Linked DNA regions of Homo sapiens: regions 2 and 3 are each linked to region 1. The links come from fine-mapping of genetic effects on gene expression. A gene starts in region 1. Each other region holds a variant in brackets. All regions are shown on one strand. Distances are from middle to middle.

What was found.
Region 2: its variant is fine-mapped to the expression of SCRN1 in whole blood (INTERVAL, PIP above 0.99).
Region 3: its variant is fine-mapped to the expression of SCRN1 in whole blood (INTERVAL, PIP 0.97).

The regions. Positions count from the first base shown.
Region 1 is chr7:29,987,461-29,997,903 of GRCh38, reverse strand. It overlaps SCRN1 (secernin 1), which reads left to right and starts at 8,103. Exons shown (of 8, transcript NM_014766.5): 1 at 8,103-8,262. FKBP14-AS1 (FKBP14 antisense RNA 1) reads right to left here and starts at 9,248. Exons shown (of 3, transcript NR_187577.1): 1 at 9,111-9,248. RefSeq lists silencers at 7,977-8,316, 8,337-8,386, 8,397-8,666, 8,757-8,876.
Region 2 is chr7:30,065,486-30,075,928 of GRCh38, reverse strand. PLEKHA8 (pleckstrin homology domain containing A8) reads right to left here. Exons shown (of 14, transcript NM_001197026.2): 13 at 1,797-1,858. Among named protein-coding and RNA genes, the nearest start is that of PLEKHA8, 42 kb to the right of the region's middle. The variant T/C (reference allele first, on the strand shown) is at 4,405.
Region 3 is chr7:29,911,819-29,922,261 of GRCh38, reverse strand. It overlaps WIPF3 (WAS/WASL interacting protein family member 3), which reads right to left. Exons shown (of 9, transcript NM_001080529.3): 9 at 5,201-7,769. The coding sequence ends at 7,746. SCRN1 (secernin 1) reads left to right here. Exons shown (of 8, transcript NM_014766.5): 8 at 1-2,153. It overlaps LOC124901827 (small nucleolar RNA U13), which reads right to left and starts at 9,734; the gene lies at 9,630-9,734. The variant C/G (reference allele first, on the strand shown) is at 4,192.

The sequences.
Region 1 (10,443 bases):
ACATGCCTGTAGTCCCAGCTACTAGGAAGGGTGAGGTGGGAGGATCACTTGAACCTGGGAGACCCAGGCTGCAGTGAACCATGAAGGTGCCGCTGTACTCCACCTGGGAAACAGAATGAGATCCAGTCTCAAAAATAAAAAATTATTGCTTGTAGGAGGCTATCCTTTCCACTGTAGAATGTTCAACAGCATTCCTGGTCTTTATAAACTAGATGCTAGTAGAGACTTCCTCAACCTCTGCCATTGTGACAACCAAAAATGTCTCCAGACATTGCCAAATGTCCCCTGGGTCCAAAATTGCCCCTATTTGAGAAACACTGATTAAAACACTTCAATTAAAAAAGTAAAAAAATGTCATATTGAATGAAAAGCAAGATCCAATTATATTGTATCTACAAAATCCCACTATAAAGACAAACACAGTTTAAAAGTAAAACGATGAAAAAATGTACTATGCAACCGCTAATCAGGAGGGTGACTTTGTTAGTATTAGACTAAGTAGACTTCAGGACAATAAATATTACCAGAGAGAAAAAAGAGACATTTTAAAATAATTCATAGCAATCCTAAGTATGTATGTACCTCCTAACAGATCCTCAAAATACAAGATGCAAAAATTGACAGAACTAAAAGAAATAGAAAGATCCACAAATACAGTTCAAGGCTACAGCAATCCTCTCTTAGTAACTGATAGAACAAATATGGAAAAAAAAATCTATACGTAATAGAAGACTTGAACAATGCTATCAACCAACTTGATCTAATTGATTTTTATAAAACAGTACCCTCAACAACAGCAGAATACACAGGTTTTTAACACACACATGGAAAATTCACCAAGATGGTCCATAGCTAGGCCATAAAACAAAAATACCCATGGGGAAAAGAAATATGAGAACTTAGAAAATATGAAAATGAAGTGAAATAAAATGAATGAAAATGCAAATACAACATGTGGTATGAGGAAAATGGCTTCCTAAAAGATATCTACATCCTAATTCCTGAAATTTGTGATATTATCTTATATGGCAATAAAAAGGACTTTATGGATATGATTAGGTTAAGGATCTTGAGATGGGAAGATTATCCTAGATTAGCATGGCGGTCCCTAAATGCAATCATATGTATCCTTATGAGGGAGGCACAGGAAGATTTGATCACAGAGAGTTTTGAAAGCTATGTGAAGACAGAACAGAAAGAGAGATTGGAAGATGCTGGCCTAGAAGATTGCAGTGATGTGGCTACAAGCCAAGGAATGCTAGCAGCCACCAAATGCTGACAGAAGCAAGGAACAGATTCTCCCTGAGAGCCTCTGGATGGTGCCAGATCCTGTCAATACCTTGAGTCCATCCCAGTAATACTGATTTCAGACATCTGGCCTCCAGAACTGTGAGGAAATGTTTGTGTTGTTTTGAGCTAAGCCACCAAGTTTGTGGTAATTTGTTATAGCAGCCAGAAGAAACTAATACATAACATATCAAATTTGGAGGATGATGCTAAAGCAGTGCTTAGAGGGGAATTTATATCTTTATATACTTATATAAAGTTTATTTTTAAAGGTAAAGGTTTATTCCTACATATACTTTGAAAAGACAAAGAATCTAAAATCAATGATCTAAGTTCTAAGAAGCTAGAAAAAGAAGAGCAAATTAAACTCAAAGTAAATAAAAGAAAGTTTAAACAATAGAGAAAATCAGTGAAACTGAAAACTGGTTCTTCAAAAAGATCAGAGGAATCAATAAATCTCTACTGGACTAATCCTTAAAAAGAAAAAGACACAAATTTCCTAGAGAAGTGCAGAGGAGGAGACACTGCTACAGATGCTATGAATAATAAAGGATAATAAAGAAATACTATAAATTATTTTTTCCAATAAATTCACCAACTTACATGAAATGGACAATTTCCTTGAAAGACACAATTTATCAAAATTGACTTAAGGACAAATGAAAAACCTGAATAACCATATGTCAATTAAGAAATTTATTCATACTTTAAGATATTTTCACAATCAAAACTGCATTCCAGGTTGATGAAGTCATTAGCAAACTCTATCAAATATTTAAGGAAGGAAAAATACCAGTCCTACAAATACTCAGAAAATAGAAGAGATGGGTACACTTACCAGCTTATATTATGAAGTCAGTATCACCTATACACCAAAACCAGAAAAGAATACTATGTATCAATCTATATGCCAATATCTCTCATAAAAATAGGCACAAAAATGTTTTGCAAAATATTAGCACATTCAACCTAGAAATATATAAAAAAGATAATTCATCATAACCAAATTGAGATTTATCCCCCAAATGCAGTTAAACATTTGAAAATCAATTAATGTATTTTATCGTATTTACAGGATAGAGGATAAAAAGCATTTCATCATCTTAATAGATGCAGAAAAAGCAGCTGACAAAATTCAACACTGATTCATCATTAAAAACAAATGAAAAAACAAATAAAACTATCAGCAAAGTAGGAAAAGAAGGAAACTTCCTCAACATGATAAATGGTATCTGTAAAAAACTCTACAAATAATATCATACTTAGTGGTGAATGACTGAACTTGTTTGTTCTCACTGTTCCTCTATAGCATTAAGTAGGTCCTAGCAAATGCAATAAGATATGGAAAAGAATTAAAAGGCAAATAGATTGAAAAGGAATAACTAAAAATGTATTTTTAGTCAACATGATTGAGTACAGAGAAAATTCTAACAAATGATGAAAAAGTTAATAGAATTCATAAGCATATTTAGTAAAGTCATAGGATATAAGGTCCATATACAAAAACCAATTGCATTTTTATATTCTAGCAATGAACAATTGAAAAATAAAATTTAAAATGATTAGTTACAATAACACCCAAAAACATGAAATAATTATTAAATAAAATATGTCCAAGACCTGTATGCTGAAAACTCTAAATATTTGCTGAGAAAACTTACAGACAACCTAAAAAAATGGAGAAATATACCATGTTCATAGATTGGAAGACTCAATATTATTAAGATGTAAATTCTCCTCAAATTGGTCTATAGATTGAATGTGATTCCAGTCAGCATTTTGTATAGGAATTGGCAAGCTGATTCTAAAATTTATAACCAAGTGCAGAGTACCTAGAATAGCCAAAACAGTTCTGAAAAAGAACAAACTTGGAAGACTTAAGCTGCCTGACTTCGAGACTTGATATAAATCTATAATAATCAAGAGAGTATAGTATTGGCATAAGAATAAATACATAGCCGGGCATGGTGGCTCACGCCTGTAATCCCAGCACTTTGGGAGGCCGAGGTGGGCAGATCGCCTGAGGTCAGGAGTTCGAGACCAGTCTGACCAACATGGAGAAACCCCGTCTCTACTAAAAATACAAAATTAGCTAGGTGTGGTGGCACATGCCTGTAATCCCAGCTACTTGGGAGGCTGAGGCAGGAGACTCGCTTGAACCTGGAGGGCGGAGGTTGCAGTGAGCCAAGATTATGCCATTGCACTGCAGCCTGGGCAACAAGAGTGAAACTCTGTCTCAAAAAAAAAGAATAATTATGTAGACCAATAGAATGGAAGAGAGAGTTGAGAAATATACCTACATTTACACGGTCAATTGACTTTTGTCAATAGCATGGTAAATCCTGGGGGAAAACAAATGGTGCTGGAACAATTGAATAGTCACATAAATAAACTTGGAATTTTACCTCCACTTATTCAAAAATTTACTTGAAATGGACCATGGTCTTAACATAAGTGCTAAAAAACTATACATCTCTGGATGTAAACATAGAAGAAAATCTTTGCAACCTTGGAGTAGGCAAAATTTCTTAGGACATAAAAAGTATTAACTATAAAAGAAAAAATATTGATAAATTGAGCATAACAAAATTAAAATCTTCTCTTCAAAAGACACCACTAATGAAAAGCGAGACATATACTGAAAGAATATATTTGTAATACATAAATATGATAAAGAACTTGTATCCAGATATAAGGAATTCTTAACATGTAATAATAATACTAATTAAAAATATAAAACTTTTTAACAGGCAAAAGACTTAAACACTTTCCAAAAGAACATATATGAATGGCTAACAAGTATAGGAAAAGTTGCTCACCATTATTAATCAGCAAAGAAATATAGGCTGGACATGGTAGTTCATGCCTATAATCCCAGCACTTTGGGAGGCTGAGGCGGGTGGCTCATGAGGTCAAGAGATCAAGATCATCCTGGCCAACATGGTAAAACCCCATCTCTACTAAAGATAGAAAAATTAGCTAGGCATGGTGGTGTGCAGCTGTAGTCTCAGCTACTCAGGAGAATGAGGCAGGAGAATTGCTTGAACCTGGGAGGTAGAAGTTGCAGTGAGCCGAGATCGTACCACTGCACTCCAGCCTGGAGACAGAGTGAGATGCTGTCTCAAAAAAAAAAAAAAAAAGGCAATATAAATTAAAACCACGAGGAGATTTCAGTACACATTTGTGAGAATCGATAAAATTTAGAAGATTGATAATAGCAAGTGTTGATAAGGATGTGGAGCAACTGGAACTCTCATATATTTCTGATATAATGTAAAATGGTAAAAACCACTTTGGAATACAGTTTGGCAACTTTTTATAAATTTAAATATACACCTGCCGTATGACTCACCCACTTCACTCTTAAGTATTAGGTTGGTTGGTGCAAAAGTGATTGCAGTTTTTGCCATTTTTAAAACAGTAATGGCAAAAACTGCAATTACTTTTGCACCAATCTAATGTTTACCCAAGAGAAATGAAAACCTACACTTACATAAAACTTGTAGATAAATATTATTAGCAGCTTTATTCATAATTGTTCCAAACTGAAAACACTATTAGTATCTGTGGTCATCACTGAGTGTACCCTCCAGACATGTTTAGCAGACAGCCTCTAGCTATAATCTCCTTCTGCCTCAGCTGCAGAGAGTAACCTCTGTAGGGATCATGTCCTTCTCAGGGCGGAAGAGAAAAAAGGAAATCTGTTATACTTGTATTTTTTAGCTCTTAAGTCTCTGAATATGACTAGATGGAATATAAATGACCGTGTAACAGTTGCAAGTCATTTAAGACATTTTTTTTCCTTGCAAGCTAGCTCATGGAAATCTTATAATTTACTCAAAGTTAAACCTCACATAATTGATAGAGGCCAATGATTAAAGCCCTTACTGATATTTCTTGGTGTTCTCCACATTTGTTGGACAGTTCTGTTCTCTTATCTCTATTTATGCAGCTCAAATAATAGTAGGGACTGTCTTTTGGATACAAAGCAGAGACAAAATAAGTGTATTGCTGCTGGTTTTTGTTTTTTAAGACGGAGTCTCACTCTCTCACCCAGGCTGGAGTGCAATGGCACGATCTTGGCTCACTGCAACCTCTGACTCCCTGGTTCAAGCTATTCTCCTGCCTCAGCCTCCCAAGTAGCTGGGATTATAGGCACGCACCACCACACACAGCTAATTTTTGTATTTTCAGTAGAGACGGGGTTTCACCATGTTGGCCAGGATGGTCTTGATCTTCTGACCTCGTGATCCACCCGCCTTGGTCTCCCAAAGTGCTGGGATTACAGGCATGAGCCACCATGCCCGGTCATTGCTGCTGTTTAATAAGCGTTCATAGTGCCATATAATAAGCTTCTCCATGCAGACCCTGGGGAAAGCAGGTGTCTTTCAATCTCCATGTGTTCCTGGGCTCCTGGCCTCAAAGCTCCTGTGGCTGTGTAGGGACAAACCAACAGGCTTCAAAGATCTCAGGCCAGGCAGGCAGGTTGGCAGTATCCCCTATCCGTGTACTGAGCATATGGCTGCCTCCAGGGGAGCAGCGTAGGGTGCAAGTGCCATCCTTTACACAACAAATGACATATACTGGCTATAGGAAGGCACAGGATTGCATTTGCCTTTCTAGTAGTGGTGTAGTCTTAAACTAGACATTTAAAACAGTGACTCTGGCTGGGCACGGTGGCTCACGTCTGTAATCTTAACACTTCAGATGGCTAAGGCAGGAGGATCATTTGAGTCCAGGAGCTTGAAACCAGCCTGGGCAACATAGTGAGACTCCATTTCTACAAAAATATTTTAAAAAGTAGCTAGGCATGGTGGCACATGCTTGTAGTCCTATCTACTCAGGAGGCTGAGGTAGGAGGATCACTTGAGCCTAGGAGGTAGAGGCTGCAGTGAGCCACTTCCCTCGAGGCTGGGTGACAGAGCGAGATCCCATCTCAAAACAAACAAAAAATAAAACAGCGACTCTGAGACTTTTAAAAAAAGTTTAATATTTATTTTAAGTTCTGGGGTATATATGCAGGATGTGCAGATTTGTTATATAAGTAAACGTGTACCACGGTGGTTTGCTGCACCTATCAACCCATCACTTAGGTATTAAGCCCAGCATGCATTACCTATTTTTCCTAATGCTCTCCCTACCCACACCTCACGGACTTTCAGACTTTAACATGCAAGAGAAACAACTAAAGAGCTTGAAAAATGCGGGTTCCCTGGCTCCAGCCCCAGAGACTCTGAATTCCATAGATCTGGGCTGGAACCCAGGAATAAGCCCGCTAGAAATTTCTAATATTGATTATTTAGACTCATTGGCTACAGTTTTCTTGGCTAGACTAAAAGAACAGTAAAGTACCTTTGTGCTCCAAGAGTCTACGAACCAATGCTCTATTCTGCAGTACCTACACCAACTTCCTCAGCCCTTCCCCACTATCCGTTTACTCATGTGTCAGACTGTAAGCACAGGCTCAACATTCAAAGGGCATGGAAAAAAGTCTCCTTCTCTCCCCAGCACCCAGTCTCCCAGTTCTGCTCCCTGGTGGCATCTATTACAGGTTCTTACGTACTCTTCCAAAGATACTCTGTGCATTTACAAAAATAAGTACAGACATACATATATATTTTCTTCCCACAAATAACACACACAACGTTCTGCACCTAGCTTTTTATTTTTCTTTAGTTAGTATAGGTTGGAAATAGTTTTGTATTAGCAAATAAAGATCATTCTCCTTTTTAAAGGAAGCTGGATAGTAGAGGCAGGCGGATTGCCTAAGCTCAGGAGTTTGAGACCGGCCTGGGCAACATGGTGAAACCCCATCTCTACTAAAAATCAAAAAAAATTAGCGAGGCTGGTGGCGTGGGTCTGTAGTCTCAGCCACTTGGGAGGCTGAGGCACGAGAATCGCTTGAACCCGGGAGGCGGGAGGCGGGAGGCGGGAGGCAGGAGGCGGAGTTTGCAGTGAGCCGAGATCCTGCCACTGCATTCCAGACTGGGCGACAAAGCAAGACTCAAAATGTTTTGATTTTTGTTAATCTGGCTGGTGGAAGATGCTACCCCACATATTTGATTTGCAGTTAAGTGAGCCTGAATATCTTTTCGTGTGCCAGGATAGAATTGCATTTATTTTCCTCTGAATTACGTCTTCATATCTTTTGAGATAGTCTTTTCTTATTTACTTATAAAAGATGGAGTTGACGCTGGCATCAACACACACACACACACACACACACAGACACACAACACACAAGTCCCTGTACATAACTTTATTAACCCAGATATGGAATCTTGGCTTAGTTACGTGCTGTGTGACCTTGGGCAAGTTACTTAACCTCTCTAGGCCACAATGTCCAAGTACCTGGGACAGGGTCTGGCTTACCAACATGGTACAGGACGGCACTTTTAAAACCAGGGACTCGACTTGGACGTGCGAGTCAACAAGGTACAGGACACATTTCTCTCCGGGGAAATCTTGTGTGGGCGCCGAGGCCCGGACGTAGCAACCAAACGTCGGGAAGAGGCGCCAAAAGGATGCTGGGCCTGGCTCCTTGAAGCCCGGGTTTTCCCTTTTGAGAGCCACAACCAAGAAATAAAAATCTAGCAAAGAGGGGGCCACTTTCTGCGGCGAGATACGCCCTCTCGGCCGCTCCTCCAGCTCCCAGGCCCCCTCCCTACTCGACGGTGAGCAGCGCCGCGGCCCGTGCAGCCAGACGCGCGGGGTGCGGCGGGGCCCCGGGGGCCGGGGTGGGGGAGGCGGAGGGTGGGCCCGCGGTCACGTGAGTCGGGCCAGCTGCTGCGGGGGGCGGCGGGCCCCAGCGCCGGGAGTCTGGGTAGGGGGAAGCGCCCGGCGGCCGCCTCCGCCACTGCAGCTGCAGCCCCCGAGGTCGCCGCAGTAATCCGGACCCGGCAGCACCCGCACCCTCGGCGGCCGCAGCCTCAGCACCGCAGAGCGGAGAGCGGAGCCCGGAGCCCGCCGCCCCAGGTGAGCCGCGTCTGGGAGCGCAGGGCGTTTGCAGCGCTGCTTTCCCGGCGGTTTCACCCCACCCGCCATCGCCACCTCCTGCGTTTCATCTCCTCCCGCTGTCCCTCCGAACCCGCGGGTAGCGTTACCCCAGGCCGATTCCCGGTGCTGGCCCGGGCGGGCTGGGAGCCTGGGGGCGGTCAGAGGAGAGGTGGCCTCGGCCTGAAGCCGGGGTGACTCGGCTCGGGGACTGCGGGGGTGCAGTGGAGGGATGCCGGCCCCGGGCTCCCGCACCGCAGCCGGGTTCCCCGCGCTGCTCTTCCTGGGTTTCCTTTTCCTGGCAGCCAACCTGCTGCCCACTGGGATGTGCCTGTGGGCCCCTGGCCTCGCCACCCTGGGGTCTGGGGCGAGCCGGGCACCTTCCCCGAGGTGCCGTACCTGCTGCGCGGGCGGGCGCCGCGAACATGGCTGCCCGGAGACGCCCGCCGCCTTCGGCCCGGCTCTGCCAGCGCGTCCAACTCGCCCGCGGCCGCCGCACCGTGTCCCGGAGCAGCCCTCCCCGCTAGGCCGACGCGCGCGGGCCGCCCCTGGGTTCTCCGCGGGCCGCGCGTGGGACTTGACACAACTTCCCTCGAGCCGCACCCGGGCGTTCTCCGCGGGGCGCCGGGCGGGGCTGCCGAGAGGCCGGCTTGGTCGGCCTCTGCCTCCTCGGCTCGCTCTTGAGGCGTCGAGTATTTGGCGACCTCACTCGCGAGGGCCGAGAGAAATGTGGTCTGCAAAGCAGGAGGGGCGCTTGAACTTTAGAGAATTGGCGAGAACTCGGATTTGGGAATAAAAATGTCCATGAAAACATCGAAGGAAACTGTTACCTGCTTTGACTCAAAGCTGACCTTGTAGGGTTCTGTTAAATAACGTGGCTTTTCTGGATTTTCTGTCTGATTCTAGCATGCAAGTCCTTGACTTACGCTTGCGTCCGGCAGCCGGGTGGGGTGGGTGCGTGCGTGTGTGTGTGCGCGTGTGCGCGTGTTGTGTTCCCAGCCTGGTTAGAAGATGCATCAGTTGCGGAGGAAACCTATGCTAATTCAAAATGGCAGCATGAAAAATAGGCCAGGCGGAAGCAGCACAGACCACAACCATCAGCTGCCCCCTGACTTAAGCCTCAGGGAGGGAATTAGTGTGAGTCAAGGCTCATCCGGGTATGGAGTAGAGAGTGATTCTTGGAGCTGGCTAGATTTTAGGGTGCTGCAGGGTCCTGGGAGTTGTTAAGTGGGAAGTTTGGAGAGCTGTAATTATTTTTCCTAACTTATCAAAAGATGATACAAAACCTAGTTAAAACTCTACGGTTTTGTATGATTTTCTCCAGGCTCAACTAAAGTTGACTCTGTGGCTGCTGATGTCTTTTTGATGCACAACCTGGAGGTCGTTTGATACCTACAAGCTCTTAAAAGAGATGTGTGCACATTGTAAACATCATCCAAGAGCAGTGCACATAACAAATACCAGGTTCTTAGATCAAGTTTCATTGGAAGAACTGATTTAGCGACACGAGGAAGCACCCAGGCATGAGGAAATGGGAAATTCTTGAAAGGTGACTCATTTTAGAATTTTTTTTTTTTAAACAGCCTTTCTTTCCCTTTTCACTTCCGTGCTGCCAGCCATCTTGTCTTTTGGGAAGGAGATACATGAGGAGGCAAATGCTTCAGGGATAATGGAATAGAGGAGGATGAGCTAAGGTCGGGGGGCAGAGGTGGAGGCAGTCTTAAGGAGCCTGCTGTCAACCCCCTTTTTACAGCAGGAAGGCTGAGGCCAGCGGGGCGAATGGACGCCAAGATCATATATCTGGCTGTCAACTGGCAGTGAGAACCCAAATCCAGGTCTCATAACTCCCCCGGGTTCCACATGCTACCTTTTAGAGCCTGGGGGAGAACAGCAAGTCTGTCATTATTAGGAAGGCAAACACTTCGAGCAATGGGAAGCCAAACTGTAATATGAATTACAAAGTCTATAGGTGTTTAAAGTCAATGACAACACCTTAATTTCCTAATTCAAGACTTTTAACTTCTTAAGCTGTATCTACCTCATGTTCACATTTTCCAGTGGTGAAACTGTTTCTATAGTTAAGAACCAAAAACATTATTTTAGTAAAGTCTTTGAGGCAAGAAGTACATTTTTTGATTAAAAATTGAGTTGCTTGTGTTTGTG
Region 2 (10,443 bases), 78 kb before region 1:
AATTTTTTATGAGTCTAAATTAGTATAATAAAGTTAAAAAGTCCTCCTAAAGACTTATGCTTTGCATCCATTAAAGTACAGGGTAAAGGAAAAAAAGATTTATGCTGATAAGTTTTCTACTATAGCTGCATTCTTATTGACAATATCTCTGGGATCATCAATATTTCAGGATTAAATTTTGCATTCTATACTGAACCCTTCCCCCCACACTTGTTTTGGGGCAACTCAAGTGTCAGGCACAAGCTAGCAATCACAATAATCACAATATTCATTCAGGGAGATCAATGACCACAGTGAGCATCCATTGCCTAAGAACTCAGTAGAGGCCTCTCAGTGATTGTGTCTTCACTGCAGAGAGCTCTAATGGAGGTAAGCACTAGCACCTTGGAGATAACAGATCTGAGTTTAGACCTGGGCTCTGACATAGCCTCACTCTGGTACTTGGGGACTGGAATTAATTGTTCTGAATTTGTAAAATAGTGGGAGTTAATCCTGAGAATTAAGATAAAGAATATGAAAGTACCTGTTAAGAATGCCTGGTACACAACAAGTGTCCAATAGCTACATGGTAGCCATTATGATTATTCAAGGTGTATTGAAGGTAAGGGTGAGCAGTCTGTAGCTTCATTTGGTCCAGCACCTATCCCAGTGAACAGTGAATGGGATATGGAGCTTTAATCTCCATGCTTTCAAAAAATATTTCATTTTCATTAGAATCTGATTTGTTGTAGTGTACATTCTTCCCACTTTACCGCCCTCCCTAATAAAGCACGACCCAAACAGTTCTTTCTTTAGGCAAATGATGCATCCTTTACATCAGTAAAAGATACCATCTGCAAGGCTACTTTATTCCCCAACCTTCCAAAGAATGTGAGTACATTCTATGAGGTTTCCTGACATACAACTGCATGAGACTGCCTTTTCATGACTAGATTTGACTAAGACTGACCTTTTCCTGGATGGGAAGAATCACAGAGTGTATTGCTGACATAAAGGAGCCATCTACTCCTGCTATTTTATAAAGCAGTCTAAGTGACTTCCCCAGGAGACTAAGAGTCTCAGGTTTGTGTTCTTCCTAGTTAAACATGCTGGGAAGAAGAGGGTGGTGGGTAATCAGAGCCAAAACACATGAATACAAAACACCTTCACAATGAAAATAACTGGCTAAGAAGAGATTTCTAGCCCTCCTAGCCACTGGCACACCCAATACAGTTAATATTCAAGGACAAAATTCAATTAGTGAAAAAAAAATCAACTAAGACCTAAGAATTAAAAGGAATGAATACAATGGGCAGCAGAGGGAGCTATTAGGTTGACTTCATCACCTGAATGCATCATTTCCCTTCAATGATAAGTATTTAGGATCACTGCTTCCTACGTACTTCTGCTAGGATACTTAAGCTTTTTACTACCTTATCAGAAAGGCAACCACTTATGAGGCAAATCTTCACAAGGTCATTGGAATTGGCTAGAGTAATTAGAATTGGCTAGGGTAAAGCATCAACTCTTTTATTCATATTTCTTTAACAGTCTTTGCTATTCCAGACACTTTTTACTGCTGACATTTCCACACACCAAAGGCCTATAAACGTAAATGAAATAAATAACATTTTGTTCTTATCCTCAAAAACAAAGCAAACAAAAACACCACACATACACACACACACACACACACACACACAACTTTGTTTCTGACAATCATGACTAGATAAATAACTGGGTAAGAAGAGATTTCTAGCCCTAGCCACTGGCATACCCAATACAGTTAATAATAGGAGACAAGAAGGATCACTTACCGCAAAAACCCCTCGAACTACCCAGCCATGGTGTTGCCGCAATGTTTTACCATATGCATTATCTTGAAAAGAAGAAAAACTCCATGAGGAACACTTTCATCAGAATTTGATGTGCTATTTGTATAATGTACTTTTTTTTTTTTTAAAGAGACAGGGTCTTGCTCTGTCACCTAGGCTAGAGTACAGTGGTGTGATAATAGTTGCAGCCTTGAACTCCTGCGCTCAAGTGATCCTCCTGCCTCAGCTCCACGAGTAGCTAGGACTACAGGTGTGGATGACCATGCCTAGCTAATTATTTTTAATTTTTTGTAGAGATGAGGTCTCGCTATGTTGCCCAGGCTGTTCTGGAACTCCTGGGCTCAGGTGATCCTCCCACCTTGCCCTCCTAAAGCATTGGGACTACAGGTGTGCACCACCATTCTTGGCCATATTTGTATAATGCATAGTAGCACGATACTATTGGTATTTGGAAATTATGAAAAAAATCTAATTACAAGATTTTGGACCCAAAAAATCTAAAGCAGTAAAAAAGCTCACATGGAATTTTTTTTTTTTTTTTTTTTTTTTTTAAGAAACACAAATACTTCCACTCTTACTCTGGGTCAATCAATATATCTGAACTTCAGCTTATTATCATGGTGGGAAAAGGTCAATACATATAAAGAAACAAAGAGGGAGGAAAGGATATTGAAAAATTGAGACAATACAATTAGAAATACTTTGAAATGTTCTGTGACCGTGAGCCAGTCCCTTAGCTGCCCTCTCTAACCATCTGTTTCCTCCTTTGTAAAATAATCTCTAAGATTTTTTCCAATTTTAACATTCTATTCTGGGATGCCAAATGTTTGTCCTAAATGACCCTATGACCCTGGATATACAGTATTTAAGCTAGAAACCTTCAAAAATATTTATGGAAAGAATGGCTTGAAGTTATTAAGCTAAAGTAATTGGTGAGAACTATATTAATAAAAGCCATTCATGTTTCATACTTTAATCTATAATTTTTGTCCCAATGTATTTTAAAAGGAGATTTTGAAACTGGCATATCATAATTTTAATTATGAAAAAAATCCCAAGAACCAGATGGATGCATTTTATGCAAAGGATGCGTTCCTGAAATTTGAATAATTCAATATATGCAAAATTCAAAACTGATTTCTCCACAGGATTAAATGCATTCTCAGGAGGCACAGATCTACATCACCATGGTGCATTTTTATTTCAATGTTCCACTTTATTTCCTAAGCATCATCTCCAGTAGCAACAGAGCACTCATTTCTAAATTAACAGCACAGTGTACCATGGGGGCTATTTGACCTTCTTCATGTTTCTCCATATCTAAATTCTATTCCAAGCATATTTATTTTCATGTGCTAGTTTTAGCACCAGCACAAGTACTACCACCATTTCATGAATGCTTAGTGTGACATTCTAAGCCTACAAAAATATTTTCAATTCTAACAAGAGAAGATGTTAAAATAACAGATAAACAGACACTAAAACCACAAGTACAAGTTCCTATGCAGTGAAAAGCAACGTGGTTCACAGGACATTGCCAAGGGAAGTCAGGTATTTATTTGCATTTTACTGGCCAAAATGGCACTGCCATGTGGCTACAGCTTCAACCCAGTTTACAATCAACTCAAGCCTTCCAGCTTTGAAATTATGTCATTCTAGTCAACTTTATTTTAAAATTGGAGTGAGGCTTTATTAATACTTTTAGAATATCCTATTTCAATTTTACATATTCAAATTTTCACAAAATGCAATTATATGTTATATAAAATACATACTCAATACATATTGCAATATATTTTATATAAAAGACTGTACATGTGAAATAGAACAACAGATTCCTTTGGCTCTCTAAAGCTTAGGAATATGCTGGAATGCCAGTATCCAGTGTGTTAAAGCTAAAGCAGAAGCAATAAGTGATAATTAATACATTCAAGTATGAAGAAGACTCTTAGAGCCTAAAGGAGAACCCAAAATTAAACTTTTTTCTTAGGAGAACAGTCTGAGTAAACTAGGGCATGATCAAAGATACATGTCTTCAATGTAAACCAAACAAAACGTAGGTGATTCCCTGTAAGAAGACATGGCATCAGGGAAATTTCAGATGGCATACAAGACCTTAGTGAGGATATCCTGAGAAATGTGAAGAAAGGGGTTGCTGATTCACAAAGCGTACAGTACAGATGGGCAGAGAATACTAGGTACAGCCTCTGATAAAAACCAGCAAGACAACCAAATTTTCAACCATTTGAGCAGCCATCTGGGCTGGCAAGAGGGTGTACAGGTCCATGGAAAACATCCTGAGGTAAGTTACCAAGGTAAGATACTGTGAATCCTTTCTTTCTTGTGTCAGTATTCCATGCAGGGCATTAAATGCCATTATAAATAAAGAAATACCATTAAAATCTGCTGGTGGATATCTACCATGAACACCTGCTCTATTCAACAAGAATTCAGGGCAAGTCTACCACACAGTAGTATCTTTAGGTGATTTAAATTCAGTCAATTCCCTGTCCTCAAGAAGTTGATGGTTTATAGAAGAGCCAGTCATTTAACAATCATTATTGTATAAGTCAATAACTGCTAGAGTAGC[T/C]ATCTGTATGCAGTGCTACAGGAACAGTAAGAAGGGAGAAACTAATCCAGTCTGGGTTGGGGGTGAGGCGTGTGGACACAAAGAATTCTCAGAAGGAATCCCGAAGGCTGGGTAGGGTAGAGAGCAGAGTGGTAGATGGTGCGGCAGACAGAGCGAGCATCACAGCGTTGTGAGAGCTCATGGCATGCTGGGCGATGGTGAGCAAAATTCATTGGATCTGAAGAACACCAGAGCTTGCAAACTGGGTTGGGCCAAATTGTGAGGACCTTTATCCATCATGTCAAAGATTCTGATCTTCCACCTAAGGCACAGTGGAAGTTTTGAAAAATATAACATTTATCGCTTTTTTTGGGTTTCATGATTGATGTCCGTTGTTGAAAATAAGGAAAATATTTTAAAAGGAGAGAACTAAAGAAACCTATAATCCTTTCTCCCAGAGATAACCACAGTGGGTATTCAGGAAAAATATTCTGCTAGTTTTTTCCCCCTGTACAGAGAACATTACCTTCTTCTGTCAGCAAAGTCATGATCATTCTGATTCAGAATTGTGGTAGGGAAATAACAAGTTGAAATTCACACTTCTTTACAGTCTGTAGCAAGTAACAGCTATCCTGGTGCCTGAGCCTCCAGCTCCAAGGCCCACCTGGCTAGACAGAATGCTTGTTTAAAAGAGCTCTGGGCCAGGCACGGTGGTGGCTCACGCCTATAATCCCAGCACTTTGGGAGGCCGAGGCGGGTGGATCACAAGGTTGGGAGCTCAAGACCAGCCTGGACAAGACGGTGAAACCCTGTCTCTACTAAAAATATAAAAATTAGCCAGGTGTGGTGGTGGGTGCCCGTAATCCCAGCTACTCGGGAGACTGAGGCAGAGAATTGCTTGAACCTGGGAGGCAGAGGTTGCAGTGAGCCGAGATCACGCCACTGCAGTCCAGCAGCCAGGGCGACATAGAAACTCTGTCTCAAAAAAAAAAAAAAAAGCTCTGGATTCGCTGCTATGCCAACCTCAGAGACCTTATACCTTTCCTATACATTGCCATTCAAGTTAACCGTTCAAAAAAGCCTAGAAACTCTTTTCCATGCCCTCTTCTAAAAGACAGCAAAAAGACAAGGAAGACAAAGGTGCTGTGAGTCCAAACAGCATGGGGAGTCTGGCTTAAGGATGGGAGAGTGTTTGTACAGCAGCACATCTGTCTTCCCACTTGGCCCTAGTAGACAAAGAAGCTGTTCCTTGTTATGCTTATACCTTGCCAAAGGAGAGTTCCACCTGGCAAAATGTGGGCCAGATGACCTAATGGGAGAAGGTGTGTCAAAAGAATTTGGGCTGGGTCTTGACTGAGATCATTGCTGCAATTTAAAACCAACAAATGAAATAAAAGTCATAAAAAAAAAAAAACACTTCCCAAAGTCCTTAGCTGACTTCTACGCTGCAAATATCCCTGCCATGTGAGACTGATGGCATTAAAATAAGATGAAGTCTAAGCCTGACCTATTTTGGTTACCTAGAGAAGATTAGATAATGAAATACATTAATCTTCACTGTAATACCCATTCATTATCATCATGCATGTTCTATAATCTGGGAGTATTTTTGGCCTCTGAAAGACATAAATGATACCCTTCTCCCAGTTCTTTGAGATGTGTCAGTTCCCCAGAAACTGAGTCAAAATTTCTAAGTAGGAAGCCTTGACAATCACCTTGCCTAATTCTTTTCCTTTTAGAAATGAAGACATGGAAGACCCAGAAAGGTAGTGACTTTCCCAAGGTCACAAAGTTAAAAGCAATGAGACCTGGGGACACTCTTGTTGCATCACACCATTCTGTCAAAAAAACTGGTGTTTACTCTGTAAACAATGTAATAAAAATGAAAAATATGCCTTTTCCAATCCTTTTCTGAAAGAATTGGCACCTGGTTATGGAAACAGCACAGCTCTCATTCATTTACTATTAGTAACTCAGAAACTTGCTATCAGGTATTTAGAGATTATGCCTAAAGCTTTTATAGTAACTGAGAGAACAACCCTTCCATTACTGTTGGTGAACAACCATTCTGTCCAGGAACTTTGTATACAGGAAAGTGTTTTTCTACTGTAAACCTATAATTGGTAAAGTTATTTTGGCTTATAGAGAAGACGAGAGAAATGTCAATCTAAGTCTTAAGAGAAAGCCTGGGAAGTAGAGAACCAAAGCCAGAAAGGGCGGAATTACTCACTGGGCTGAGGAAATGACAATCATAGTTCTGCAAATGTGCTCAACTAGACAGTTCTGAGGCAAGAATTAGGAACCAGGAGATTTGAAAGCAGGTAGTCAAGTCTGGCAGGAGGCTGGTGGGAAACAGATAGGCACCGGGGAAGTGTGCTTGCCCTAAGATCCTACGAGTTCTAGAGAGAACGGTCCAGTAACTCACTTAGAATAGTAAGAACCTTCATCCTATAACTCATGTCTTTTTAAAGCATAGGTGGGCAAAAGAACAATGGACCAGAATATGGAGTCTAGAACAGATCTCTCTCTCTCTCTCAAAGTTGGTATTACATACAAGTGGGGAAAAGAATGGGTGATCCAATAAATGCTGCTAAGACAACTGGCTTTCTGATTGGAAATAATAAAATTATATCCCCACCTTACACCATTCACAAAAATAAATTCCAGGAAGATTAAAGACATAAATATGAAAGCAAACCTACAAAACTTCGAGAAGAAAATGTCAGAGAACATCTCTGTGACCTCAAGGGAGAGAGGGATTTCTTTAAGAAGTACAATCCATAAAGAAAGAATGACATGTCTGATTACATAAAAACTGAAACTTCTGTATACCAAAAGACACCATAGATAAAGAGCAAACGCAAGCCACAGACTGACAGAAGACATTTTAACCCATAACTGAAAAAGATTAGACATTTTAACCCATCACTGAAAAAGATTAATATCCAGGAAATATAAAGAACTCCCAGGAGTTGATAAAGAAAACCTAAGAGAAAGGTGGTCAAATACATGAACAGGCAACTCACAGAGAAGGATATCAAACTGCCAGTGAAGACAGGAAAAGCTACTCAACCTTACTTGTAATCTAAGAACAAAAACTTTGGCAATATTCTATCATTTTACAGCCATCAGGCACAAATTTAAAAGGCTGACAATGACAAGTGCTAAAAAGAATGTGGAGTATTGGGAACTCTCACTACTCTGCTGGTAATTATAGACTTTGGAGAGCAATTTGGCAATATCTAGTCATGTGGTTCAGCCATTCCAATTGTATTATGTACTACAGCAGCAATTCCCAGTGTAGTCTCCAAACCAGCAGCCTCAGCATCACCTGGGAACTTGTTAGAAATGCAAAGTCTCAGCCTCAAGTCAGGCCTACAGAGCAATCTGTGTTTCAAGGAGCCTTCCAGGTGAGGCTAATACAGGTTAGAGTTTGAGAACCACTGTTCTGGCAGCACAGCTTCTCAAGCAGTAAGGCCCCATGAACTACCAGTCTGTAGACAGCCAGAGTCCCTGGACCAGTCCCTCTTAGCTATGAGAAGCCTCCTCCTTTTTCTGGTGTGCTGTCTGGACATAATTTTCCATATGATAGAGAACATGTGTGAAAGGAACGTGTACATTGTAGAATTGCTTTTAATGGTGAAAATCTGTAATCAACTGTGTCCATTAACAGTATATTAGTTTTTCGAAACCATGGTCTATTCATACAATGAAATGCTAAACAGCAAGGAAAATTAATGAGCCAGGACTACAAGCCACTTCAACAGTGGCTAAAGTCTGAAAATACTGAGTGAAGAAGGAAGAATGTGCACAATATGATACCTCATATACAAGTTTAAAACATGTAGTCCAATGCTAGATGCTGCTTATGGACACATAAATATATAGCAAAAGCATAAAAACATGTATTACATAATGAACTACGCAAATTCAGGATGATGATCTCTGGAAAACGATGGGAGTCACGGGATTAAGGAGTGACACGTGGGCACTTAACTGTATTGAACTATTTTTTTCTATTAGGTCAAGTGGTAGATATTTGTTAAATGCCTAAATTATTTATAATTTTCTTTTTTGAGACAGAGTCTTGGTTTGTCACCCAGGCTGGAGTGCAATGGTGCAAACATGGCTCACTGCAGCCTCAACATCCCTGGCGCAAGTGATCCTCCCACCTCAGGCCCCCAAGTAGCTAGAACTACAGGCTGGTACCACCACACATGGCTAATTTTTGAATGTTTTGAAGAGACAGGGCTTCGCCATGTTGCCCAGGCTGGTCTTGAACTTGTGAGCTCAAGTGATCTGCCTGCCTTGGCCTCCCAAAGCGCTTTGGCATGTATTTTTAAAAGCAGAGCTACTAGGAGAGTAACCTCTGAATTCTTTATAGTGACTATGCTTAAGGCAAATTGACTTGTATGGACAATAACCAGTGGAAAGAGGTCAAACAAGCACCCAGAGATGCCCTTTGTTAATTTCAGGCACTGTTAAGACTAACGCTTGTGCTGCCAGCCAATCCTGCCAGTGGAGGCATATGCTGCAAATGGTTCTGGAAAGAGTATTACAATTCACATTCCATAGTATTTTCAGAATGGCCAACTTATGATTTGATGTCAAATATCTGATTATGAGTTCTGACTTTATCTCTCTCACTTATCTCTCCTTATCTGTGAAAGCCTTTCATATTAAATACATGACTGAGCATCCTTTTAAAATTTTTTCTATTCTGTGCCAGAAAAGGATCTTGGTTGGGTTAACTTTTACTGACATTTATGGGATCATTCTGAGATGAGATATGTGGCAATATGTTATCCCACTGAGCACAGAGCATATAACATTTAATACAATGGTGCATGAAATGCCAGAGCAACTTTTCTTCCTTCCACTTGCAAGGATGCTTTCCAAAACCTCTTTCTGATGTGGAATATGCAATGGAGAGGGGGACTCAGCTCTAAAGCAGATTATTAAACATATCTGCCTTGTGAACCCAACTCCCTCCTGAAAATGACCTCTAAAGAATGTTAGGACACTAAGGGAACACAGCAGCTCTTAGCATGAAACCACCCAAAATGTTCCACTCTGATTATCATTATGGGGAAGCCAAGTGATGGCTCAAGTGCAAAAAGGGGCAGTGTAAAGTCTAAGGCTCCTTCCAGATGCTGGAAGTATTCCAGGTCACAGAACTGCAGCAATACAATAACTAGAGATGCATTTTCCAGAAAGGTAAAGGAGACAAGGCTTCTACAATGTTATTTAGGACTTCTACATATAAATGTACTATTTCCAAGGCCATTAAGACCATACAAGTTTCATGAACATTCACCTCAAACCTTACTTAAGCAGTATTTTTATTGGAAAGCTGTCTAATTATGATGAAAAGGAGGAAAATAAACTGATGCTATAACTAATTTCAGCAGTTTTACTCCTGCTTATTAAAAATCTCTTAGATGCAGTCAAAATCACAAAATTATCAAGATGTAGACAAGTGACAGGTGAACCTCAAAGGCCTAAGTCTAGATGACTAGGTCTCAAACTTCAGCATGGATTAGAATCATCTGAAAGACTTGTTAAAACACGGACTGCCAGGCCCCAGCCTCAGTGTCTGATTCAGCAGGTCTGGGGTGGAACCGGATAGTCTGCATTTCTAATGAGTTTTCAGGTGATAAAGATGCTGCTGACCTTGGAACAGCTTGAGAACCACCGATGGAGATTTTGAGACCCTAGGGAAGGTATTTATCCTCTTTAAACCTCAGTTTATTCACTGGAGAGTATTTGGAAGATTAAATAAAATATTTATCAAAAACTTAGTGTAGTAGTTACACTGGGTGCTCTGTAAGTGATAGCTGTTTTTAAATTCAACTTTAGAATTTAAAAAAGCCAACAAACTTGCCTATATATGGCATATAAATTGCACACACTCTCTTTTACCTACTCACTCACCCTCCCTCATTTCAAACAAGGTATCAGTTCTACTTATGAAGGCTGGGACTTCAAAATGAGAAAAAGGAACCATTATCCCAGAAGAAATATGCATCAAGGAGCCTACAGGTTCTGAGTAACTATTGT
Region 3 (10,443 bases), 76 kb after region 1:
GTTTTGTAAACTCTGTATATAAAATCATTAACCACACATTGTGGGTGATGGGAAGACGATTTCAGCTGACAGAGTTAATGGCAACCAATAATGGTGGCCTGTAGCTGCTAAGAGCTTCACGCAGGTTTGGCCTGGGCTTTCACTGTTGGTGAATTTAGAGTGTCCTTTTAGGTGGGGCGGCTATTCTAAAAGTGTCTTTCTATCACTGTTAAGGGGGGGGGAAAGTGAGGTTCGAGGATGACGTAGGTAACTCTCCCCTCCCAAGTCCATGTTCCAAGTGGCTATGTAAAGCAAGATGATACAGAAAGCTGCTCTAAAATCTCACTGAGTGATTTCACCTTCGCCTACTATGAAATGTCTCATCAGACCTGACATGTCTGAGATAACCAAGGTGATTCAGGATTTGATCAAAAGAAGTCTAGTAAGAATTAATTACACAGAAGCCTCCTTTCATTTCTATGGGCCAAACAAAGGCCATGGATAACCCTACCCGCTTTATGTCATTACCCATTGGGAAACACAATGGCTACTTCTGTTAGGGTACATTGACCTTGGTCAAGCATCTTAAAGAAGGCAACCCTAATTGAGAGCTGTCTTGGCTAATACTCTGCACCACAATTGTGATGTCCTAGTCCTACCACTAGAGGGCATGGTACAGCCTGGCAAAAGTTAAAAGGGGTGTGGCAGCTCCCATCAGGTCTGGAGGTGGTCTATAAGCACAGTTGACAGTTGTGCATTGGGATGGGTGGAGAAAGACGACAAGAGAGCAGAGAATCTGCTGATGTGGCTGCGCTTACTTTTAGTGACTTTATGTACTTATATTAACAGCTGGAAATAGGTTGTTGGGTTTTGAGCAGGCTGTTATAGTGAGGAATGTTCATTTTTAAATGTTCCTAACAGATTTTGCTTTTGAAAAATGCTTGTTACATGAATAATTTGTGGACCAGGGATTGCTTTTCTGAAGGCAGTATAGGGAACATGAATATTCAAGATGAAATACAAAAATTATGTTTAAGGGTCATAGTGTATAAGTAGCTTCCTAGGAAACCCTTTGTGTATCTTTTCAGACTGGGGTGGGGGCTGAGCATGCTTGTGCAGAAAGAAGCCATAGCCAGAAAGGACAGAATCTCTCCCCCACTCCCTTGCCCCATAACCAAACATAAGCTAGCTAGTCTTGTCTAATAGATGGGATTTACTATAGGTGAAGATAGCCCTCATATTCAAGGACAGAAGCTCTGGCAGGAGTAAATTAGCAAAGCAGAAATAGTACCCTTTCATTCTTGGAGGTGCTTTGAAATTTTAGGTAGAATATAATCGAAATTATGGAGGTTCCTTAGTGCTCAATAATATAAGACCTGGTGTTATTAGAACGAGTCTTTCTTATAAACTAACAGAGCAGGTATATGCCTGTTAGACCTTAGCTGTGGGGTTCCTTTACTATTGGGTGAATCATTAGGTATAAAAAATAATCATCAACCAGGCAAATTACTTTGCTTCCTAGCTGATGTCATCCCACATTGGTACAGGTGTTATTCAGTACTGGGTGGTTCAGCAGGGAAGCCGGGTGGGACCAGTGTGTCTGTCATGAAACCACTAACTGCATTCCTGACTGAAGAGCCATCTGTCATTTATTGGGGAAGGTCTTCAGTTGAGCTCTCAGCCTTAGGAAGGAAGCACGTGGAGGAGGGACGGAGGAGGTTCCCTTGCTGGGCATGCTTCGTAGAGGGCCAGGAGCAGCAGGTCATGTGCACATGCCGTTGCAGCACAAGCTTATGCTTCCCGTAGCCGTGGCTTTTCATTCTGCACAGTCCCAGGTCCCAGCTCCCCTCTTATGGTTTCTGTCATAATGTGCTTTATCTGATTGACTCCAAACATCCCGAAATGTCACCTGCAGATTTCTCGTGGGAACCAATATGTACATGTTTGCAATTATGCTGTGAGAATTTAAATGTGTTAGATGGAAAATGCTATTGGCAGGGAATAATAATAAAAAAAAAAGAAAATCATTCTGTTTCCTGCAGTGGGAACTGGCCATGTAGTCTTAACAGTCTTTTGTACAAATATCTACAAAGCAGATAATATCCCTATCCAGTGCTTGCCCTTGGAATTGTCTCTAAATGCATCAAGCATACAATAAAAAAAACTGAAATTAACATCCAGTGGAGTGGCCTCTTCTGTTTTGTGTCTCGTGAATAAACGTGGGCCTCAGTCGCAATATAGAAAATGTATGAGAATGGATATATTTTTCTGGCTAGAATCTTTAGAAAACAGTCAGTTCAGCAGTTTCTTGCATCATGTAATGTTCTGTGGATAAATTCAGTCTTTAAATATAAAACCACAACGAAATATCACCTCACACCCGTCAGGATAGCTACTATTGAAAACAAAAACAACAACAACAACAAAAAACCACAACCAGAAAATAACAAATGTGGGTGAGGATGTGGAGAAATTGGAACCCTTATGTACTGTTGGTGGGAATGTAAAACAGTGCATCCATTGTGGGAAACAGTATGGAGTTGCTCAAAAAATGAAAAACAGAACTGCTGTATAATCGGGCAATCCCACTTCTGGGTATACACAAAAGAATTGAAAGTAGGGTCTGGAAGAGAGGTTGCACACCCATGTTCATAGTAGCACTATTCACAGTGCTAAAATCTGGAAGCAACTCAAATATCCACAGATGGAAGAATGGAGAAACAAAATGTGTTCTATCCATACAATGGAATATTATTCATCCTTAAAAAGTGGAAGCAGATTCTGACATGCTACATGGATGAACCTTAAGGATGTTATGCTCTGTGAAATCAACCAGTCACGAATATTATATGGTTTCATTTCTATGAGGTACCTAGAGCAGTCAAAATCACAGAGACGGAAATTAGAAGGGTGGTTGCTAGGGGCTGGAGGTGGGGGAGAAATTGGGAGTTACTGTTTAATGAGTATAGAGTTTCAGAAAGTTTCGCAAGATAAGTTATGGAGAGGGATGGTGGTGACGGTTGTACAACAATATGAATGTACGCAACACGAATGAATTAAGCACTAAACATGGTAAGCATGGTAGACTTTATGTGTATTTTACCATAGTTATTAGAATGGAAGTCTAGATCATCAGAGTGGCTGGTACTCTGTGCCAGACATCTTGATTCCAAGGCATCAGCAATGCCACAACAGGAGAGGATGCCACTTAGGGAAAAAGCCAGCTCTCTTCACTCCTGTGACCCAGAAATGCCAGCTTGCTTTCCATGACTCTCCACTGTGACAGGTAAAACGCAACTGAATGTCTTGCTCGTGAAGATAGGACTTAGTCACCTGCAATGAATGACCTATTTCAAGGTCAGGGTAGATGACTGCTCTGTTTACATGATAAGGAGCTGCTAATTCTGAAATTTTATTCCCAGCTCTCTTTTCATAAACATTGTACCCTCCTGCAAAGCTCTGGGTGACAAAGCCTGTATTCTTTTGCTGGGGCTGCCGTCACAAAGTACCACAAACTGGGCAGCGTAACCAGGAGAAATTTCCTGGTTCACAGTTCTGGAGCCCAGACGTCCCAGGAATAAGACATCTGCAGGGTTGGTTCCTTCTGAGGGCTGTGAGAAAGAATGTGTTTCATGTCTCTTGCCCACCTTCTGGTGGCTTGCTGGCAATCTTCAGCACTTTGGGACCCATAGAAGCAGCATCCTGATTATCTCTGCCTTCATCTTCATGTGGCGTTCTCCCTGTGTCTATGTCTGTGTCCAATTTCTTCATTTTATAAGGACACCAGTCATATCGCATCAGGGGCCCACCCTAATCCAGTATGACCTCATCTTAACTAACGATATCTGCAATGGGCCTATTTCTAAATAAGGTCACATTCTGAGGTACTGGGGGTTAGGACTTCTTCAACCTATGGATTTTTGTGGGGACACAATTCGACCCATAACAGAATGGGTGGGTGGAGGATGCTGAAGCCTCCCGGGGCACCGTCTGAGAATTTGGAACTTGCTTCTGGAGTCCATGGCCCTTCCCATTAACTTGCTCCCTCTCTAGGAAGCACGTCTCTCACACTTAGCTCCATAAAAGGTGCTTACACTTCTAGCTACTTCACCACGGCCATGCTCAATGTGACTCTGAAGTTCATCATCCACTTTGTAGATTATCTTCGGCCCTTACTTTTTCTTCCCCATTCAGACTGGCCCTTTTGGCCAT[C/G]AAAGAGCCAATCTGTACCTCCACCAATAAGAGAGCAATAAAACGGCCCCTTAACTAATTCTGATGCAAAGTGTGTAGTAACCAGCTTTGAAATTAGTTTCTAGATGAGATTTATTTCAGGAACATCTATGAATTTTAATGACTGCTCTCTCATTGTTATCCAGCAGCAGAGTTAGTGAAGTGTGGTCTGAGTAGCTCAGCAAATACTGAATGAAGTGCCTGGGATGCAGCCAGCAGAGCCCTGTTTGTGCCCAAGCATGGAACCAGCAAACTGGCTGCTCCCCGGGGTGCAGGGTGTGCATCACTGGCTCCGTTGTGATCCAAGGGTTGAGGGCTTGCCCATGTGTATTACATCATTGAATCTTCACCAATATACACTCGGGTACATATTTATGTCCCCTTTTGACAAATGAGGAAGCTGAGGCACAGATTGTAAGAGGCAACTTGTAAGAGGCAAAATGGAGATTCAGATCCTGGTTTGCCTTCTAAGCACTAGCTCTGAGATAGCTTGCCTAGCAGATAAATCTCACCTCCCCTGAACCCTGTTCCCAAAGGTCCACCTTAAAATACTACAGGGGGATTCAAGATGATTCTGTTCCTACAGGAGGCTTTTTTGGGGGGTTTGCTGAGTTGGGAGTGGGGACTAAGTGCACGTAGAGGGAAGGTTGTTCTATTTCAACACAATTTAGCAGAATTTATAAGCAATACACTGCCCATTCTGTGTTAATCAAACTGAATAAATATAGTGTTATCTACTTTTTAAAAAATGCACCTGAGAAATTTTTTTTTTCTTGCTTGTTTTTTCCAAATACCAATTAGGCTAGTTAGCTCAAGAAAGAAAGGCCCTGTTTCTAACACAGTATGTTACAGCAAGCACCGTATCCATGTAAATATCTATTTTTTTTCTATCATTCTTAGAACTTCAACTTCTCCTGATCCTTAAAAATGTTTGGTTTAGATTGATACTGGTGACCACCGATGGGTTTTAACAAGGAAACGACTGGAAGCATTTCCACTTACTAAAGTTTATTAAGTACAAAGAAATGAATCTGCGGAAGGAGACATCAATAAATATAAAATACACGTGAAACATTGGAGGAGTCACAGACTGCAGTGTCAGTGAGAATATGTGACAATGGCGGGGACTGTGTGACTCAGATGTCTCTAAGTCTGAGTTTACAGTCAAGGGGTTAAACCTTTACAGCGCCCAAGGGACTCAGTGCACCAGCATGAGCTCGAAGGGTTGTGAATTCAGTGATAGGTCTCAAGGGGAGATGGGATGCCACATTCCTGAGATTTCTCCCTAATTGCCATTTTTGGTTTCTGCTCCTTCCTCCCCTCTGTCCTTTTTTTTTTTTGAGTTAGGGTCTCGCTCTGTTGCCCAGGCTAGAGTGCAGTGGTGCCATCTCAGCTCACTGCAACCTCCACCTCCAGGGTTCAAGCAATTCTTGTGCCTGAACCTCCCAAGTTGCTGGGATTACAGGTGTGAGCCACCATGCCTGGCTAATTTTTTGTATTTGAGTAGACAGGGTTTCACCATGTTGGCCAGGCTGGTCTTGAACTCCTAACCTCAAGTAATCCACCCACCTCAGCCTCCCATGCTGGGATTACCTGCATGAGCCACTGCTCCTGGCCCGCTCTGTCCTTAAATAGTGTTATTTTAATTTCCATCCCAGCCATAGGAGACACGAATGTCTAAACACCTCATTAGGGCAGGCAGTCTACTCTGAAGGTGGAATTGCCTTTGTCTAGGGTCTTCTTAATCAGGATCATTAAAACTTCTATAATTATTTTACACAACTGTGAGGGCAGTGGAGTGGACACTGTTATAATAATAAATTCTGGCTTTTTGGAAATCTTCCAGAACCAATAAAACAAATTAGTTATGCCCAGAGCTGATGACCTGCAAAAACTTCTACTTATTTAGCTGTTACAGTTTGGGCTTGATTCATTCCCCTGGAGAAGGGAATTTGACCCTGGCTCACTTGCTTCCATCTGGAATGAGAAAGCACAGCACTGCTGCAGGACACCACCTGAGTCGTTACTCCAGACAACAGTGAGGCAGATGCAGTCATGTTTGCCCACACCCTCCTGACCGGCTGCCTTTCTGGATGGCTTGGTCTGTTCATGATATACTTCAGGGGTGAATGTGTGCGTGGGTTGTTGCAAAGCAAATTTCTTTTTCGCTGGTTTCCCTCCCCTCCCTGCCTGATTTCCTTTAAAGGGCAGCTATTTTGAGCACAGCCCAGGGATCAGTCTGTTTCCTTCTATTTTTTCTCCTTCCTCTGTCACAGTCTTCCCCGACCAAAGATGGGGAACATCAGGGGTCAGGCAGCAAGCAAAAACACATTTCCACTCCCTACAGGATCAAGAAGAGGGAGTGAAGAGCAGGACCAGCCCGGCCTGACCTTTTCCATATTCAGAGTGGCTGAGCTTGCACACATCTCCCCACAGACAGGTGCCCACCACAAGGGAATGAATGTGGAGTTGTCAGGCAAGGTTCTCCTTTAGCTCAGAAGGGAGCTAGGTTTTGCCTGACGGGTGGCTCCAAGGATCCTAAGATGGGGGCAGTGAGGCACTAGGTATTTGTGGCAGGTATTTCACACGATGTTTCGTTCTACACTTTTTCATGTCATATTTTCCATGGAAGTCCACACTCGAAGCAAGGGCAGAAGGGGAGACCTCTGAGATACAACTGGTAGTTTAGCATAATGATGAGTTGTGTATGTTTTTAATCTGTAGGGAAGAAATACCAAAATCTCATAAAGCTGGCTACTGGGATGGGACTGGGAACTTGGAGGGAACAGGATGAAAGTGACAGAGACTTGGGCACGAGGGACACTGTAAACAGTAGGAGCACTGGCTACTTGGAGGATTATTCAGTTACAAAAGGGGCCCTGTGGTTGGCATCGGAGGGCCAAGCCCACTCTTGCCTTTACTTTGTGATGTATTACATTAGGCAGCAAAAAAAAAAAAAAAAAAAAAAAAAAAAATTCCCTGTACTGCAAAATGGAAGCGAGACATGGCACCTCGTTCCCTGGAGGCTGCGCGGCACTGTCTGGGTGTGGGGGACACGCTACTTCCTCTGAGCTGCATCATTGATAAGGCATTATTTGGTTTGATTTTGCAGTTAGTGTGATGAGAATATGAAATTATGCCAATAAGAAGCCGTTGTGGATATTTATAACTTTGGGGCTACCTGCAAACTAAGGACTCTCTACAAACGGTTCAGAATCTAGGAAGGGCCAGCCTGCAAGCAGATTCACAGTCATGGAGTGGGCACTAGGTGGAGGGACAGGGCTCTATCTGTGCTGACAAATGCCAAGATGCAATGCAAAAAATGGAAAAATGAGGGGTGTTTTAAAAAATATTACCGAAATAAAAGTCAATTAAAATACTGCTTTAAAGCCCGTGCAAATCACATATTTACAATAAATAAATTCTCAATTCCAAGCCTGTATGCCAACTGAATTACAGCTTGAGCATGGGGTGGGTGGGGTCTGACATGTTGTTCTGCAACCTGGAACCCCAGGACCTTCGCTTCATCTGTCTTCTCACCGAAGAGTCTTTAGAGATAACTGTGGAAACATAACAGAACATTACCAGGTGGAGTTAGAAGACTCTTGCACATGAAAGCCTTCCTCCTCCACCCCCCCAAACAGGCTGGGCCCCGAAGCTTCTCATTCATGCAAGGCTGTCAAGTTTGGGGAGATGCCTATGCAAAGAGCTGACTTTTACCCAAGGGGCTGTGGGTGGAAACCAGATGAAATGGGGTATGTAGTTGATGGTATGTGAGGACCTAATACTGTCTTATAAACATTTATAGAACCAATCATCAGCAATTCACTTGACAGGAAGCTCAGAGAAATAAAAAAAACGTGCTGGAGACCCCAAGTTAAGGCAGTGGAAAAGCAAGAAACCGATTTAGGCATTCAGACTTCCAGCCCAGGGCTCCCACCCCATGCACTGACCACTCTAGCCATAAAAAAGAGCAGTCCCTGGGGTATTGTTTGCAATGTCTAGAACCCAGTGATTTCTCAATTGTTTTGTGTCTCACTGCAGTGAGAATTAAGATGGTATCCAGTGAGATACAAAGATCTTCTTGACTGTGGAATGCCCAAAGGAGACTACAATCCACTTTGAGTAGACTTGCAGGCGGAGATCAAAACCACCAGACTCAGGTGATCTGGGTGCATGCCTGCCGTGAGGCTGGAGACCAGATCCTGCACAGTGTGTGACACGTTGGTAGTGAGGAGGATTCTTGTCCCTGGAGATTCTAACATGCCAGGAAAAGCAGTGAGGCATTATGGAAGAAGCACTGAACAAGAGGTCAGAAGGTTTGGGCATTGTGACATGGGCAAGTTCTTCAAATTTCTAGAAAGTTTTCTCTTTTATAAAAATGGCATTAAAGGTATCTCTCCAGCTTCCATCACAGGGTTATTAAAAGGATTAGATGATATAACATATGCAAGCTAACTGAAAAATGTAAAGAGCCATACGAATATGAAGGAACATGATTATGATTATTACTATATTTTCCTGGTCACGGGAATAATATAATCATTGTAGAAAACTTGGAAATTGCATAAACGCCAAAAGAAGAAAGTACAAATCAGCCATAGTCTTCTAGAGTGAATGCCTATTAACATTTTTTCTCCATTTTTATTGTGGTACAATATAAATAACATAAAATTTACACTAGTAACCTTTTTTTTTTTTTTTTTTGAGACGGAGTTTCACTCTTGTTGCCCAGGCTGGAGTGCAATGGCGTGATCTCAGCTCACCGCAACCTCCGTCCACGGGTTCAAGCGCTTCTCTTGCCTCAGCCTCCCGTGTAGCTGGGATTACAGATATGCGCCACCATGCCTGGCTAATTCTGTATTTTTAGTAGAGATGGGGTTTCTCCATGTTGGTCAGGCTGGTCTCGAACTCCCAACCTCAGGTGATCCGACTGCCTTGGCCTCCCAAAGTGCTGGGATTACAGGCATGAGCCACCACACCCAGCTGACTAGTAATCATTTTTAAGTGTATAGTTTAGGGGTATTAAATACATTCATAATGTTTTGCAACCAATCATCAGTACCCACTTTTGTTTAACTCTTTTCATCTTGTAAAACTGAGACTGTACCCATTAAACAATACCTCTCAATTTTCTTTTTCCCTCTAATCTCTGGCAAGCACCAGTCTACTTGCTGTTTCTACTACCGTAAGTACTTAGGTAAATGGAGGCATATATGGTGTCTGTCTTTTGTGAGTGGCTTATTTCACTTAGAATAATGTTCTCAAAGTTCATCCATGTTGAAGCATATTTTAGAACTTCCTACTTTTTAAGCTGGATAATATTCCACTGTACATGCGTGTATCACATTTTGTTTATCCATTCATCTATCTATGATACTTGAGTTGCTTCTACATTTTACTTTATTTTTCCAAGTTCAGGTCAGACAGGTAATGTGCCAAGGTTGTAACAAGGTTCAGAGAGTGGCACATCTCACACATGCACATGAATACTCAATCATCACGCTCATGAACTACAAGAGGATCAAGTTGCTTCTACATTTTAGCTATTGTAAATAATGCTGCTATGAACATGGGTGTACAAATATCTCTTCCAGGCTCTGCTTTAGGTTCTTTTGGGTATATACGCAGAAGTGGAAGTGCCAGATCATATGGTAATTCTGTTTTTTATATTTTGAGGAACTGCCATACTGTTTTCCACAGCAGCTGTACCATTTCACATTCTCACCAACAGTGCATAAGGGTTCCATTTTCTCCACATCTTTGCCACCACTTGTTATTTTGTTTTGTTTTGATAGCAGCCGTCTTGATGTGTATGAGGTGGTATCTCATTGTAATTTTGATTTTTATTTCTCTAATGATTAGTGATGCTGAGCAACTTTTCCTATGCTCATTGGCCATTTGTTTATCTTCTTTAGAGAAATGTCTATTCAAGTCCATTGCTCATTTTTAAATTAGGTTATTTGTTTTCTTGTTGAGTTTTATAAGTTCTGTATATATCATGGATATTAATCTCTTATCAGATACACGATATGAAAATACCTCCTCCCATTCTGTGGGTTGCCTTTTCTTTTTTATATTGTCTTTGATATGCAAATTTTAAAGATTTTCATGAAATCCAGTTTGCTTATTTTTTCTTCTGTTGCCTATGCCTTTAGTGTCATATCCAAGAAATCATTGTCAAACCCAGTGTCATGAAGGTTTTGCCCTGTGTTTTCTCCTAAGAGTTTTACA